2 separate regions of the Homo sapiens genome follow, and region 2 is linked to region 1. A link means that fine-mapping ties the variant in region 1 to the expression of a gene that starts in the linked region. Tissue or cell type: cerebellar hemisphere. Region 1 holds a variant in brackets; the other region holds the start of a gene. All regions are shown on one strand. Distances are between the middles of the regions.

Region 1 (8,185 bases):
TGTCCTAATAAATGAAGAAAAGCATACGCCTATCAGTTAATAAGCTTCTTTCTTCCCAAAGTGAAACAGTATGGCCATATGAATGGGGTTTTATTATTAACCCTTTAATTCAGGTTGTATACTTTTTGCCAGTTTATACATTTTACTTTTGCTTTTTGTGATTTAGTGATAAAGGAATGATTGCTATAAAGGCCTAATTATCTCCTTACGCTGAAACTTGTTAAGATCAAAATAAAAAGGTAACATGGAAATGATGGATGGTTCCATTTTTTTCACCCTGTCAACCAACATTGGCTAAATGCTGGCTGTGTATAAGGCATTATAAGGCAGGGGTCCCCAAACCCCAGGCTGTGGCCTATTAGGAACCAGGCGGCTCAGCAGGAGGGGAGCTGTGGGCAAGCGAGCATTGCTGCCTGAGCTTCACCTCCTGTCAGACAGGCAGCGGCATTAGATTCTCATAGGAGTGCGAACCCTGTTGTGAGCCATGCATGCCAGGGATCTAGGTTGCACACTGCTTATGAGAATCTCATGCTGCTGATGAGCTGAGGTGGAAGTTTCATCCTGAAACCACTCCCTACCCTGCTGTCCATGGAAAAATGGTCCTCCATGAAACTGGTCCCTGGTGCCAGAAAGGCTGGGGACCACTGCTGTAAGGGACAGGAAGATGACAGATGAGCTTCCTGGCCTCAGGGGCATTATAGTCTAGCACTGTGCTAACTTAAATACAGTCTGTGCACTAGCATCACTTGGGCGCTTCTAGGAGTTCAGAATTGCAGTCCCTTCCCCAGACCTGAATCACACTCTGCATTTCAATAAGATCTCCTATGATTTTAAGTGCTTAATACAATTTACAAAAAAAAAGAAAAACTGGTTGAGTAGATTAAAAAAAATAATAACCACAGTGATCACTGGAGAGGCTACAGGAAAGGTATCAAGAACAAAGGAAGTCATGATTTTTAAAAAAGTTATTTATTTGGAATTTTATTTTGATCTCAGAATAAGTTTGCCCTTGGTCTTCTTATATTAGAAGAATCTCAAAGTTGATGCTGTTTTAGGATTTCTTGTAATCTGAACTCCTTAGGTTGGGGACATTTTCTTGGTGAAAGTTGGTACAGATGTTGCATTTTTGGTTATGTACTGCTTACCAAGCCTCTGACGTCCATGTTCTGTGTCAGTGGCGGCTTCTTTACCAGCGACATCCTTTGTCCCCTTGCACCTTAGGGGACTGAGAGCAATAATCTGCCATATTGCTTCTGTATCAAGTGATCCCATGGGGACAGTGCAGCTAAGGCTTAGGATGTCAGATCTGTTCGCCCTTTTCAGGCATGAAGACTTTGAAAGGTGGGAGTTGGGCTGGTGGTGATACATATGCATAAATGTTTGTGTTGAGTCTTTCCCTTTGAGGGGAACAACACTATTAATTCCGTTGAAGGCACTGTGGCTTTTAAAGCCAGGGTTTAATGAGAAGTCAGTGCTTTTCCTTCTTTTAAGTTTTAAAGCAGTGGTAGTTGAGGGCAACCTGAAAACGGGGCCGGCGCTGATTAGGTAATTAGCTGCGTTTTGCCTTCCATGACTTCTTTCTAGAGTACAATCACTTGTTTCATTCCTTGGTGGGTGGAAAGGTGGATAAAGGAAGAAGGATTTAATGTACTATGGGGAATGTGTTTGCTGTGGTCCTGGGGGTAATACCGTTTGGTTGTTTTGTTTTTTTAATTATAAATATCTGGCTCAAAGTATTTACTTTTGATATTGAGATAAGCTTTCATTATTCGTGTGTACAAATTACCTCATAGAAAGATTTCCATTTAAGTGTACTCTTAAATTATTCACAGGAGATGACAGTTGGAAAACCTACTGTACGCTGTCCTAAGCTAAAGGTCCCTGTGGGTTGTCTGGGTGATTCATGTGGTAATCTGATGAGAGGCACACTTCACTGCTCCCAGCCCAGGCAGGGCCACTTCAGAACGTGACACCATTGAGAGTAGTCCTCTTCTGTGCTCTATGTGGTTCTCTTTGCACCTTTGTCTCTTTTCACATGCCTTCTGTTTATGCACCTCACTCCCAGCCAAACCAGCCAACCCCAGCGGCGCTTGCAATCCAGCCGTGTTTTCCCATTGATTTCTAACTTCAGGGTGCTGCCTCTCTTGTTCTCTTTGCTAGGTTTGACAGGGCAGGCAAGCTACACATGGAAATGAAAAGTCACAGTGCTCATTTGTGGCCTGTGAGGCCAAAAAACTGATGGCACTTGAAATTAGTTCCTATTTTTGGCTGGCATTTTACACAGATGGCGAGTAGAGCAATTACATGCCTGGTTGCGTTGAAAGGTTTGTCTAATCCTATATCCTGTCCTCTTTAACACTTTTTATTAAGTCTCCAACTTTCATTTATGATAAACTCCTTTTTCAGGATGCCAGTATATGCTGAAACATAAAATATTGTGTCTTATGGCAAGAACCTTCCAAATATATTCAGTCTATTCCTTTGACTCTTGGTAGAAGCATAGATAAATCTTTCCAAATTCATGGGCATTTGACTTAGGAATTCCCAAAGGAGATGATTCTAGAACTTCCTCTAGTAATTTATTCTGGTGCCTCCAGTTTTTATAGTTAAATTTTCCTTAATGTATTATGTAAATCATTTCTGAAATATATAGAGTAATATAGAGTAATTTCTTGTCCCTTTGTCAGCAGTGATGGGTAAGTGACCCTCAAATGTGGAGAACTAAGTATAAAAGATGCAATTGATCATAAACATGGTGTAAAGATCCACCTGGGGGTCATTATGCAGGGTCTGCTCCTCCAGCCATTTCAGCCATTTCAACCCTGGGGCTTCCGTCCCGCTGGTGAAGGAGGGGGGTGCTGGCCAAAGGCAGCTGCGACAAAGCCCTTCCACAGAGGCTCTGCCTTTTATTCCGTGAGCCCTCATTAACTCCCATTAAACATGTAATTTAAACAAGCCTGTTTATGTGATTCCTAAGGCCTGAAGCTCAGCAGTGGCAAAGTGGTAGGAAGGGAGCAGTTATTGGCACATGTGATGACAGCAGAAGTTCGAATTTGACAGCCTGACAGTGAGAGGGGAGGGGG[C/A]AGCCCAGCACGGTAAGGAAGGCAGATAAAATCTGTTCAGCACGTCTGTCTCACATGGGGACAAGGCAGTCTAATGTAGGTTTTCTTGGAGAAAAATAGCTACGTTAAGATGTTTTCATTACTTTGAAGATTATAGCTGAAGTTATTTTTTTTAAAAACCAATTACTGTAAAAGTAGGATTTGCAGGCGGGGAGCGGTGGGTCATGCTTGTAATCCCAGCACTTTGGGAGGCTGAGGCGGGCAGATCACCTGACATCAGGAGTTTGAGATCAGACTGGCCAACATGGCAAAACCCTGTCTCTGCTAAAAATACAAAAATTAGCCAGGCGTGGAGATGCGCGCCTGTAGTTCCAGCTACTTGGGAGGCTGAGGAAAGAGAATCGCTTAAACCCGGGAGGCGAAGGTTGCAATGAGACAAGATCGCGCCACTGCGCTCTGGCCTGAGTGACAGAGTGAGACTCTGCCTCAAAATAAATAAATAAATAAATAAATAAATAAATAAATAAATAAATAAATGTAGGGATTTTTCCACGGCAGGGTTATTGTGAAGGTTAGCAATAATATACAGGAAGCTTTTGGCACAAAGTAGCCTTGGCCCTGCTGCCAGGAGGGGCTGATTTGTATGGCTCTTGGGTTGATAATCCACATAACTAAAATGTGGGGTTCATCGTGGTTGCTAAACAAATATAGCTTGAGTGAATATAGTAGCTTCTTAAGAAGCCCACTTAGGATGTTCTAAGCTAATTAGAGTATATATCTAATATGCATAGTTAAGATCTAATTATTACCTACAAAGCTGATTTAAACCATTATATTCTCTTGATCAACAGGAACTCTGATCCAGTTGTAAAAGTAGTTAATTTATTTGACTTTCTTAGATAAATGAAGATTTAATAATCAAGGCCCAATATAACAGAAATATGGACTAGCCAGTAGACAGAGAATTGGTTATTATACAAACGTATCCCTAGGTCTTATGATTTGTGGGTGCACAGTTTCTGGAAATCTGGCAGACGTGGGCACTTACTTTGACGGAGAGTCATGAGTCTAGTCCCTGAATGGACTAGTTATCATTTTGGCTGCTTGGCAGGAAATGTTCCTTTAGCTTCTCCTGTTAACCCTTTCCTTGAAGTGTACAGGGTTGGGGGCCCTGGAGGAAAACACGCCAGTTACTAATGATACCAATTCACCTTTGCTGCTGTGTGTATGCACATTCCATGGAGGGGGAGTTGAGGAAAGCGCTCAACAGCACTTCTGGTAAATAAAAAATAGCACTTGGACCAGGCACGGTGGCTCATGTCTGTAATCCCAGCACTTTGGGAGGCCGAGGCAGACAGATCACCTGAGGTTGGGAGTTCGAGACCAGCCTGACCAACATGGAGAAACCCCGTCTCTACTAAAAATACAAAATTAGCTGGGTGTGGTGGCATATGCCTGTAATCCTAGCTACTCGGGAGGCTGAGGGAGGAGAATCACTTGAACCCGAGAGGCAGAGGTTGTGATGAGCTGAGATTGCGCCATTGCACTCCAGCCTGGGCAACAAGAGGGAAACTCCGTCTCCAAAAAAAGAAGAACACACAAGGTTTAAGCATATATATAATTTTTTATTTTTATTTATTTCTTTTGAGATAGGGTCTCACTCTATTGCCCAGGCTGGAGTGCAGTGGTGCAACCACAGCTCACTGAAGCCTCGATTTCCTGGGCTCAAGCGATCCTCCCACCTCAGCCTCCTGAGTAGCTGGGACCACAGGCAAGTACCACCATGCCTGACTTAACTTTTTTTCTTTTCTTTTTTTTTTTTTTTGCATTATTTGTAGACACAGAGTTTTGCCATGTTTCCCAGGCCGAGCTTGAACTCCTAAGCTCAAACGATTCATCTACCTTGGCCTCCCAAAGTGCTGGGATTACAGACGTAAGCCACCGTGCCCAGCCAGATATTTTTAAATTAAAAATGCAGCTGCAGGATGTAGAGAGTAGGGAGAAGAGAATTGTGTTCATTGTTTGGGTTCCATGGCTCCTTTGAGTGTGCACAGATGTGTGGCGGGGGTCTCGTGAACCAGTGAAATGGCAAACAGCATTTGGGGCATTAATGGATTTCTCTGGTGAGATGGTCTTTTTTTACTTTTCCTTTTATATTTTGAGACTCTCAAAAAGTGTTTTCTACTCAGAAAGAAGAGAGTGGATGTTTGATGTTAGCCACTGGTGTTATGCACAACTATTTTAACTTTGCCTTTATAATGGTAGTCATCTGGGTGCGGTGGCTCACGCCTGTAATCCCAGCACCTTGGGAGGCCAAGGCAGGCGGATCACAAAGTCAGGGGATCGAGACCATCCTGGCTAACACGGTGAAACCCTGTCTCTACTAAAAATACAAAAACAAAATTAGCCAGGCGTGGTGGCAGGCGCCTGTGGTCCCAGCTACTCGGGAGGCTGAGTCAGGAGAATGGTGTGAACCCGGGAGGCAGAGCTTGCATCATGCCACTGCACTCCAGCCTGGGCGACAGAGTGAGACTCTGTCTCAAAAAAAAGAAAATAAAATAATGGTAGTCAAAGTGGAGATATTATTGCAATTAATAACTGAAACAGGCCCAGAGCACTTGGTGATGTAGCAAGCATCCCTGGTAAGTGTGTGAATCTCTGATCCAAGTGGTGTCGGCTGCAGCCTGGTCCTCATTACTGACTTCTCTGTGTGACATTGGGTATGAACATACTTTCTCTGGGCCTGAGTTTTCCTATCTGAAAATCATGGAGTTTAAACTACGTGATCTCAAGGACTCTTTTAGCTTTTAAACTGAGGCTGCTTTGTAGCTTCTGCCTTAGTAATACCTGTTCTCTGTCATTATTTACATGGTGTAATATGAACTGCCTATCTTAGTAACACTTTGTAGAACTTCTGACTATCTTCTACAAGTGTTCCTGTCCCAGTAAGCTTGTAGAGCCTTCTTCTTAAAATCTCAGTGAATTGGAGTAGATGTATGATGCAAAATTCTGGTTTTAAAATTTTTAATCAGTTTATTTTCTATTGCAGTTTGTTAATTTTAATGTATCTGATCGATGCTGAGTAAAGCAAAGTGCTACAGACCTAGTTCTCTACTCGTTGCTTATTTGCCTTACCCCAAATAACGCTTGGGAGAAGGAGATGCCGACCCAAGTCTCTATGATGGAAAGTTGCAGGGACTTTTAACACCCCTAGGACCGTGGAATTGTAGTAAGTTAGCCTTGGGTGAAATGCTACACCCAAATGCATTGCAAGCTGTGGCTCTAGATAGTTTGCAGAGGAGGCTCAGGGCTAGAGCCTGCAGCTAAGTGCCACTAGCGTAGCTCTCTGATGACTCTTTGTGATAGGATGATCATTCAAGGTTGGAGAGGAATAACCCCCAGGGGCTCCCAGTGATACGGCAGAGGAGGATCCAGCCCCACACTCTGGCTGCTGGTGACAGGCAGGAGTGACAGTAACAGGTACAATGATGGCTGCGTTTCACCTTTGTTGGAAGCTGGGAGTGAATAGCCGGGTCCGTTATATTCTCTTTGGAAATATACTTCCTTAAATGATGGACATTCCTAAATCCATCTAGGAATGTTGGATGTATCTATCTATCTATCTATCTATCTATCTATCTATCTATCTACTGTATTAAGCCCCTTCTCAAAATTGTAGTTTCAGAAGTATGGTTTGATAATTCATAATCAAGTTCTTTTTCTTTATGCCCAGAAGTCTGTATTCTGCACAGACTTGCATACCCCTAGCTGCGCTAAAGTTCAGAAGTTTGAGCTGCCACTGAAGTATTGACTGTGGAGAGGCGGGGTTTTCTGTCTCCAATGAGGTGCCTTTGGTGTCGGGAAAGCCTATCGTCTTTCGCAGGAGTGCTTGCTCTGTAATCCAGGCAATAGCCACGCAGCCGGTTTTATTGTTTGCGGAGTCCTGCGGCTCTGAACGAGCGCTTCACAGACGGGAAGGAGAGCAAGTGGGCGGTTTATGATTCTGCCCTGTGCTGGGGCGAGTGAGCTGAGCTCTTTGATTTCTCCCAAGTAACCGTGTGGGTGAACTGTAAACTGGGTGCCTGGCTTGACCCTGACTCTTTTTCTCTAGGGTGAGGAGTTACTTCACCAGGGCAGCTGGCTTTCTGCCCTGGTGGGGAAAGATGCCCAGGAGAGGAGTAGGATTACAATTTGGGATGCTAGGGACACGCCAAAGAGTCGGGGTGCCTTGGCTTTGTGTTTTGCAAAGTCCTGACAAGTACTCCTGAAATGAACACGCTGCTTCATTTTTTAAATTATACTTTTATTTGTTTATTATTTTTTGGCCGTGGATATCGCGGATCTAGAAACGGAGTCCACAATGTGGCTAGGGTAAAACATTTTTCTTTTCTTTCTTAACCCCTCCTTTTCCCTTTCTTTTTAATTGGGTGACACAGAAGCCGTCTTTTTGGATAATGCGGTGCCTGACTGTCAGCGTTGTCTAAGAGGGAAACAGCAGGCTCGTGGAGAGGACCTGGGCCAACGCAAAAAACCCAGCGTTTTGTTTGCTGGGCTGTTCTTTGTCTCTAGTTGATTTTGAAAAGAAGATGAAAAAGGAAGGCTCTTCAGGTTCCTTCAGACTCCAGCCGAATACAGGTTCTCTCTCACGTGCTGTAAGTTGGATAAATTTCTCCTCCTTGTCCAGGCAGACAAAGAGGCTGTTTCGCAGTGATGGAGAGCTCTCGGTTTGTGGGCAGCAGGTGGAAGTGGATGACGAAAACTGGATATACAGAGCCCAGCCCAGAAAAGGTGACTCGATTTTTAAAAAATTTAAACATTTGAAAAAGTTTGTTATGTAGAATTCTTTGTTTCTATCACTCCCCCTTCATGATTTTTGCCCCCATTAGGAGTTTCTTTTGAAATGTTTGTTTTTGTATTGGAATTCGGCGTCATTTGTTTACATGTCTAAAATAAAAATGCTCTTCCTCAGCTTGAGCTTGTATCTTGTATCATTCAAAGAAAGATAAAGTAGCTGTTATTTGTTCTCGGCAGCCTCCCTCCCTCCATCAGAGCCACATGCTCATGTGACTTGTGAAAAGTTCAATGATAAACCACCCACCACCCTAGCTAGAGAGAATCTTCTG
Region 2 (8,185 bases), 76 kb after region 1:
GCAGGAGAGGAACTAGTGTGTTGCAGTGTCAATGAAGAGGATCAAGAGCTGGGTGGTTGGAAGTATATGATTAAGAAGATCATTAGGAAGGTGAGGAGAAAGAAAAACACCATTAGTAGGAGTCAGAAATTCACCGATGACCACTGAGAATTTTTTAAAAATTGAAATAAAATCTTAGACAATAGAAAAGATAGTATGTGGATATAAATTGGAAGCAGGGGGTATAGAGCAATTACTCGAGGTGTTGGCAGTTTAAGTCAGAGACAAGTAGGAAGACAGCCATGGGGTCTGCTACACTGATTCCCTTGCATGAAAGCATGGCCCTTTATTAAGCAGAAGGCTGCTAAGCTATCTCTTGAGATTTTATTCATTGATTTAACATACACTTACGTATGTTTACATACCAGGTACTGTTCTAAGGAGTTTATCAATAATAACTCTTAGTTTTCATCATGACCTGGTGATATAAACACTGTTGTTATCCCGTTTTACAGATGAGCAAACCAAGGCATGGAGGGGTCACTCCTCTGGTCAGTGGCTGGTAACCTGGGTAGGATGGTTCCAGAGGGGGACTGCTTTTCGCTATTATGCATTAGTGTCAAGTTTTTCATGTCTAGTTCATTAGAACATTTCTTTTTCTTTTTTTGCCCTGTGCAATGGGCCTTGCTTGTAATCCAAACACTTTGGGAAGCTGAGGTGGGAGGATTGCTGGAGGCCAGGAGTTTGAGAACAGCCGGGCAACATAGTACCCTATCTTTATAAAAACTTTTTTTTTTTTTCCGCCACTGTCATATATGGCTGAAGTAGGCATCAGAAGTACCATGGATTTATATCTTTTCTGTTGCACGTATAAATTGAACAATTAAAAAATACAGTTCCAGAAGAATACGGCTCTTCCATCAACCACAGCATTGAGGCATGCAGATTATATGATGAAAACATTTCCCTGTGCTCATGCTCATATCAAGGATGTAAAGTAAGAGCTGGCAATTGATTGGGTAAACTTTCTAATTAATAAGTGCTTTCAAAATACAACTTAATATAGAACGCAAGAAATGTGATAGTTTATTTGGTTTATTTCCTGGAGATCTGGATTTTATGGTGTTATGTGGCAGTGTGGAATAATGCACAGAGGATGAGACATCCTAGGATGCCGGGATGGAAGCCTGCATTCTCCCCCAGGTTTACCACTTACTCGTGTGTAACCAAGTACAGTTGGCTCTCCATATCCACAGGTTCCACTTCCGTGGATTCAAGCAACCATGGAACAAAAATATTTGGGGAAAAAACCACAATAAAAGTAATGCAGCAATAAAAAAAATACATATTTTTAAACCAATACAGTATAACAACTACTTACGTAGCATTTACATTGTATTAGGTACTATAAGTAATGTAGAGATGATTTAAAGTATATGGGAAGATGTGCATAGGTTGCATGCAAATACTACAGTATTTTATATCAGGGACTGGAGCATCCAAGGATTTTTGTATCCAAGGGGCATCCTGGAATGGATACAGAGGAACAACTGCGGCCACTTTATATCACACTTAATATTGAGTGAGAAAGGAAATTACCCCATGCAAGATTCTTCCTACAGTTCATTTTCTGAGAGGAAAGAGCACTTCTCTAGTCCTGGGGGATGGAAATGTGTCTCACAGCCTGAGGAATCTCTCTCTCTCTCTTTAAAATGAGAGCCAGTGAGATTCATTACACAGTTTTGTTTTCTTGCCATTGCCTCCTTCAAGGTTTTGCTCAAATCTCGACTTTTCACGAGGACCACCCTGACTCCTACGATGCTGCAGCCTGGCCACCCTCAAACCCCCTTTTATGTTGCTTAACTTTTTTATTTTGTCTGTTGCACTCAACTCCTTCTAATATACCACAAAATTGTAGTTCAGTGTCAAATAATTTAAGCTCCATGAGGGCAGGGATCTCACCTATTTTGTCCAATGATGTATCCCAATGAAATGAAAGAGTAGCAGTTAGCATCGGTGCCTGGTATTTATCTTTCTGATGAACGAATCTATATTCAGATGCCATTGTTGAGCACATGGAAAGCTACATGCTATGGAGGGTTGAGCATAATCAGAGTTTCTTGAAAGAACAATTTCTGTTTTCACTGGACATTTGCATGGTGACACTTAACCTCAAACACTTGTGGATTGTGCATATGAGTGTTTTTGCCCACAACTCTCCTTGTGTCTAATGCAATGAGCAGAGCGAGGTCACTCTTGCAGATAAATTTGTTTTCCAAAGGGGAACTTTGCCCGCTAATTTAAGGCAGCCACATAATCTGACTTACAGGCTCAGTCGTTTCTCATTTGCCATCTGGCAATTTAATTACTTTAAAATAAAGCTATATATAAAATGAAATAACACAAATTGGAAATCTGTGATAATATGTATGATAAGATGGTAACGTTTCTATGTGTTCTTTTGTTTTGTTGTTGTTGAAAAAATAAAGGGCATAAAAAGACCTGAGAAGGAATCATTTCAAAGCTTTCCCCTATGTGTTCTTTTGTTTTGTTGTTGTTGAAAAAATAAAGGGCATAAAAAGACCTGAGAAGGAATCATTTCAAAGCTTTCCCTAGACAGAGCCCCTTATATAAATTTTATTCTTTGACTAAGAGCCTTTGTTATAAACTAAATGTTTTGAATTAGTGGATTATTACATTTTTCCATTGAGTTATAAGTCTGGCCCAAAGCTATGAAATAAGAGGTTGTCTAAATTGTTTCAAAAGTGTTTGGCCATGAAGTGGAACTGGGCTGAGATGTGAGGAAGATTCTTTTCCTTTTTCCGTTGTCATAGTATTTCCGGATCTATATTCTCCTCTTTTTTCCTATCCCTTTACCCCTGGAATATGTTTTTTCAGTGCCTTCTTATACTCTGTTTCTGATTTCTCTGTCTCTACTTGTGCTTCCCTAGTTCTCTGTGGTTAATTGCCAATGGGCAAAAGAACCAGCACTCTGGATGGTAGATTCAAGTTAAAGAGTAACTCAGATAATGTTTGTTTGAGACAACATTGAGGGAAGGGCGATTATGGAATTCTGAAAACCAGGAGCCTAAGTGACAATTACATATAAAATAAAGATTAAAATGATTAGGGTACTTTATCTAATTTATCATTTGGAGTGGGGAAGTTGTATTTTTTTTGGTGGATTTTTTTTTTTCTTGATTGTTGTGGCAGCTAGATGCAAATAAGATCATGCTTTGGAACACACAATGCTGATTCTCAATCACTGGCAAAGAAGGGTGAGAAGACAGAGCATCCTAATTTGCACAAAAATGCAACCAAGTCATCATTTGCAGCTCCTTGGAGATTCTATTCTAAAGTTTTACTGCTTGTACAAGTTCCTTTGGTATCGGAGGCAGAGCCTGGGGCGTGGTTGGGAAACAATAGTTTGGTTTTTTTCCCCCCTAAATCAGTTCAAATCCCATATACCCTGAATTAACTGGAATTGCTGTCAGACTTGGCAGCTCCTGTAAAAGATCTGGGTGTTCATAGGGGCCTAATGAAATGGGGAACACATTTGTTTCATCTTGACTTCCGTAGAGGAAAGTCTGCACTATTTTTGTGGGCTCAGAGAGGAGGAACTTCTGATCTGTTGGAGAGAAAACTGAATGAATGGGCACTGAGGCAGAAAGCCTGATGTGGCTGTCATGCAAATAAGAACCGTGATTGGCTTTCTCTTTCTTTCAGCGCACGATGTCACTGGCTGCTCTCAGCCTTAAAGATTAGGTTTCAGTAGGAGTTTTTCAGGTTCAAGGACTGTTAATGGTTTGTAACTGCCTGACAATAAACTCAACCTCAGTTACATCAGCCTGGGCAGATGTCTAAGGATATGAGACCGGGGGAAGAAAAAGTTAGAATCTGTAGCAGAAGGACGAAGCTTGCCACCTGCCTACTGGGCTGAGCTTTTAATGTGATTTACATTTCTAAGCTCTATGTAGGTGCCCTGGAAATGGTGGTCTTCATTAATGCAAAGATTAAGTCTTTAATTAAACTTTTTAAGAAGAAAAGTAAGTAGTTCCTTTTCTCTCTACTACCTATTGTGTGCATATGTTTCCATATGTGTATATGTCCCTGTGTGTCTGTGTGTGTGTGTGTGTGTGTGTGTCCATGTGTGTGTTTTAGGTCCTTCGTTCTTTTGTGTGAAGAAATTAGAGTGTGAAACAGCGTAATAGGCATGAGTTAAACTCTACTCTATACCAGGTTGTTTAAATACCTCAGACTTTTGTAACTCTAGGACAGTATTATGTGATCTTAGCATGTCTTATTTATTTATGATTGGGGTTTTAAGTGAATTCACTTCTTCTGTGCTTTTCAAAAGAAGTCCTTTGAAGAGGGGGGAAATTCTTGTACTTAATTTATGTTTCCCTTGATATCAAGTGTATGATTTTTTGATTCTTTGGATAAATATGCAGCTGAGGTAAGGGAGCCTCTGTGTAATGTATCACATATTTCTGGTGGAGATAATCCCCTGAAACTCCCTGGCACTCTTTGTTGTGTATTTAAGAGCTCGAGCACAAACTGTCTAGACTGATCAGTGATTGTTGTAAGGTACAGAACTTTTGTGATGTGGCTTTATTGTGTACTTACCATTGACTTACATTTCTTTAATGTAGGTGCTTCTTCATTCTCTTGAAAATAATAATTTTTATAACTACTTGGCTTTGTTTTTACATAGTCGGTGGTTTATTTTATTTTAGTTTAGTTTAGTGTTTGGACCAGTGACTTATACTGGATAAATGAACATGGGTAGGGGCATTGGTAAGAGGAGCTTTGGAGAAAGCTACAAAGAGCAGCACGGTGGGCTGATTTTCTGCAGCTCCTTGCTAAAGGCTGCCTTTGGATGAACAGATTAAAAGTGGCCCTGGCGAGAGTGAGGAACACGAGGGGAAGAGACTTTTTCATAGGAGCCAGTTGGTAGCTGTGCAGTGGGGCCGATGGTGCGATTGATGGTGCAGACACGAATGCCATTACTTGGATTTGATTTGAAATTGTCGAATAGGAAAAGTTTCCATTTTCAATAGTTTCTAACTCTGAAGTATGGTAACTCAGTCTTTAAAATAAATGGACATCAGCACAAAACACTGTGATGAACTCTGGCTACACTTTGGGGGGACATATGGTGAGTTTGGCCCAATGCTAGATTCTTCTGAAACACAAATGAGGGTTAAGTCAGGTCTTTGTGGATTTTGTGTATTAAGATTGATAGTTGTATGCACCATGCAAAACATTTGCTCAACAAGAGTTTACATGAAATACTAGGTGCCAAATTCACATACTGCTTTTGTCAAATACTAAGCAGAAAGCACAATGGACATTTCTGTTTTTAACTTGATATCTAGTTCTCAATGTTTATTTTCTCATTTAGCAACTTACGGAGAAGGTGGGGTCCTTTTGAAAATGAGTTATCCTGTTCAGATTCATAAGATTGTAAAATTTAGTAGCTGCAGAAAAGATGGTATGTGAGATGAGCGCTAGCATGTGGCCCAGGTTTACAAGAGACAGTGACAGTTCAAAGTTTGGGGCCTCGTTAGAATAATTTTTACTGTTCCTGCCACAACCATGTTTTACCTGAGTTATTTCTTGAGCTAAGTACTTTATGTATATTGGTTCATTTGATCTTTAGAGTAGCCCTAATAACTGTGCTATAGAGTATGTTTAGTGAATTTTAGATGTGCTCAAATGGATTTAATAGTTTATGCGTGTGTTCTCATGTTACTTTGAGAATTCATTTTATGGTCTAGTTTCCAGGTACATGTTATGTTGGGGACATGGATACGCCCAGTGTGAACTCTATAGCATAGATCAGAGTCAGGAAGACTTGCTCCTCACTCACAATTCAAGTATCTGCTGGCTTTACAGGGGTTAGACTTGCTACCTCAAGCAAATGCCTCAGCACAAGGACTTTCTCCAGTACCTTTCCAGTCTCTCTTATGCCTGGGTTACATGGCAGGTATATAGAAAGTATTAAAACATTGTTGATGAATTTGTTTTGGTGCTGTCGGCCTCATTTTGGGCTCCACTGATGCCCCAACTTAGCTCGTGTTGTCAGGAAAAATGAACTAGAGAGGTCTCAAGCCTCCGAGGATTTAAAGAAAAATTATTGTAGAGATTTATCTTACTCTCAGGATTTTACCTGTTATTTTGTCCTCTAATGTCTTGGTCTCTTCTGTGCTGGGAAAATTTAGTTGAACTGGATTGTGTTGGGAAGAGTCAATTGCATTGTAATTTTAAAAATGTTTAATATAAAAGGGTTTCATGAAAGCAAGAAATGCAGAGAGAATTTTGTAACACAAATGGGTCTCCACATGTATTAGCTATGTCATTTACATGTAAATTGAATGTTTACGCTTAATTTTTTAAAAATGTAATTGAGTTTATAACAGTGATGCTCTTTAAATAATGCTGTAGAGGGAGAATATTTGTTATAAACCTCCTGGTAGGAAATTCATTTCTATCAGGACAGTCTAACATTTACTGTTGCGATGGCATTATACAGTTGAGTAACTGCTATTTGTTGTGTGTGTGCGAGGGGGGTTAAGTAGGAATTGGAGGTCTCTATCAATTCTGTCAGATGTTTTCAAACATTGGAGTAAAGGGAGGACCTAAAATGCTGGGAAGCAGTTAACTGAGCAAATGATTCTATGAAAACATTGTTTGGAGGGTGGACACTTTCAGCTTTTCTTTTATAAGTAAAACACTGTGGGCGAGACCCCTGGAATCTAAGATTAAAACTAATTTAGGATTTGCTCCATTGCTCCCTTGCTGGCCCTTACCCGTGGATGTGTTAGACATGGAAACACATCATGATGTAATGAACTCGTAGCCAATGAAGTTGACACCTGAATGTATTCTATCTTTTTTTCTATAGCGGTTTCCAACCTAGATGAGGAAAGCCGATGGACAGTCCACTACACTGCCCCGTGGCACCAGCAGGAGAATGTGTTCCTTCCCACCACAAGACCCCCCTGTGTTGAGGACCTGCACCGCCAAGCCAAGCTCAACCTCAAATCAGTACTGAGGGGTAAGATGGCATCCTCTGTGAGCTTATTTTCTTGGGTTACTGGCTGCTGAGAGCATAAATTTGATATCTATTTATAAAACCAGCTCTACTTTTATTGAATGTATAGTATGCTACGTCTTTATACGATATCATAAATACAACCTAATACATGCTGATATGGTTTGGCTGTGTCCCCACCCAAATCTCATCTTGAATTGTAGCTCCCATAATTCCCCTGTGTTGTAGGAGGGACCCAGTGGGAGATAATTGAATCATGGGGCCAATTTCCCCCATACTGTTCTCATGATAGTGAATGAGTCTCATGAAATCTGATGGTTTTATAAGGGGACACCCCTTTTGCTTGGCTGTCAATTCTCTCTTGTCTGCCGCCATATAAGACGTGCCTTTCACCTTCTGCCATGATTGTGCGGCCTCCCCAGCCATGTGGAACTATGAGTCCATTAAACCTCTTTTTCTTTATAAATTTCCCAGTCTTGGGTATATCTTTTTCAGCAGTGTGAAAATGGGATAATACACATGCCTAAGATGTTCTGGTCTCTGCAGAAACTTGCCTATTTGCAGATATGCAAATCTGTTTCCAGGAGCCCACACCTTCTTAGAAACACTTTAGCATGTTTAAACCGCCAGTGTTAATTTGATCCAAATAAACCACTGCTGACATGGGCAGTTTTGCCACTGTCTTTTTAAAACCATTGTAAGTATTCAAAACCAATTTGTTTTTTTGAACACACTTGTTTGTTCTGTTTAGTTCAAGCTGGCTGGAAAAAGGACCTATGTATAGACTTTGAAGACATGCTAAATGGTTTGATTTATCAGAACTGGGGTATCACCCAACTGGGCTCCTCTGAGCCTAGGTTCTGCCAGCAGATGAGCAAGGTATACTTGGTCAAGTAGAAAATATAGGAAGAATGTATTCCTATATCTAGTTTAAAATTCTCATTTTTACTTCAGTTCATTGTGGTTTGTTTTTCTTATTGAGATGGAGTCTCACTCTGTCACCCAGGCTGGAGTGCAGTGGTGTGATCTCGGCTCACTGCAACCTCCACCTCCCAGGTTTGAGCCATTCTCCTGCCTCAGCCTTCTGAGTAGCTGGGATTACAGGAGTGCATCACCACACCTGGCTAATTTTTGTATTTTTAGTAGAGA

The links. PIP is the estimated chance that this variant, and not a neighbour inherited with it, causes the effect.
Region 2: NHSL1 starts here. The variant in region 1 is fine-mapped to the expression of NHSL1 in cerebellar hemisphere (GTEx, PIP above 0.99).

The regions. Positions count from the first base shown.
Region 1 is chr6:138,571,375-138,579,559 of GRCh38, reverse strand. It overlaps a transcript of NHSL1 not described here. Among named protein-coding and RNA genes, the nearest start is that of NHSL1, 76 kb to the right of the region's middle. RefSeq lists enhancers at 2,378-2,878, 6,657-7,413. The variant C/A (reference allele first, on the strand shown) is at 3,084.
Region 2 is chr6:138,495,073-138,503,257 of GRCh38, reverse strand. It overlaps NHSL1 (NHS like 1), which reads left to right and starts at 3,764. Exons shown (of 8, transcript NM_001144060.2): 1 at 3,764-4,025; 2 at 6,887-7,039. The coding sequence starts at 3,968.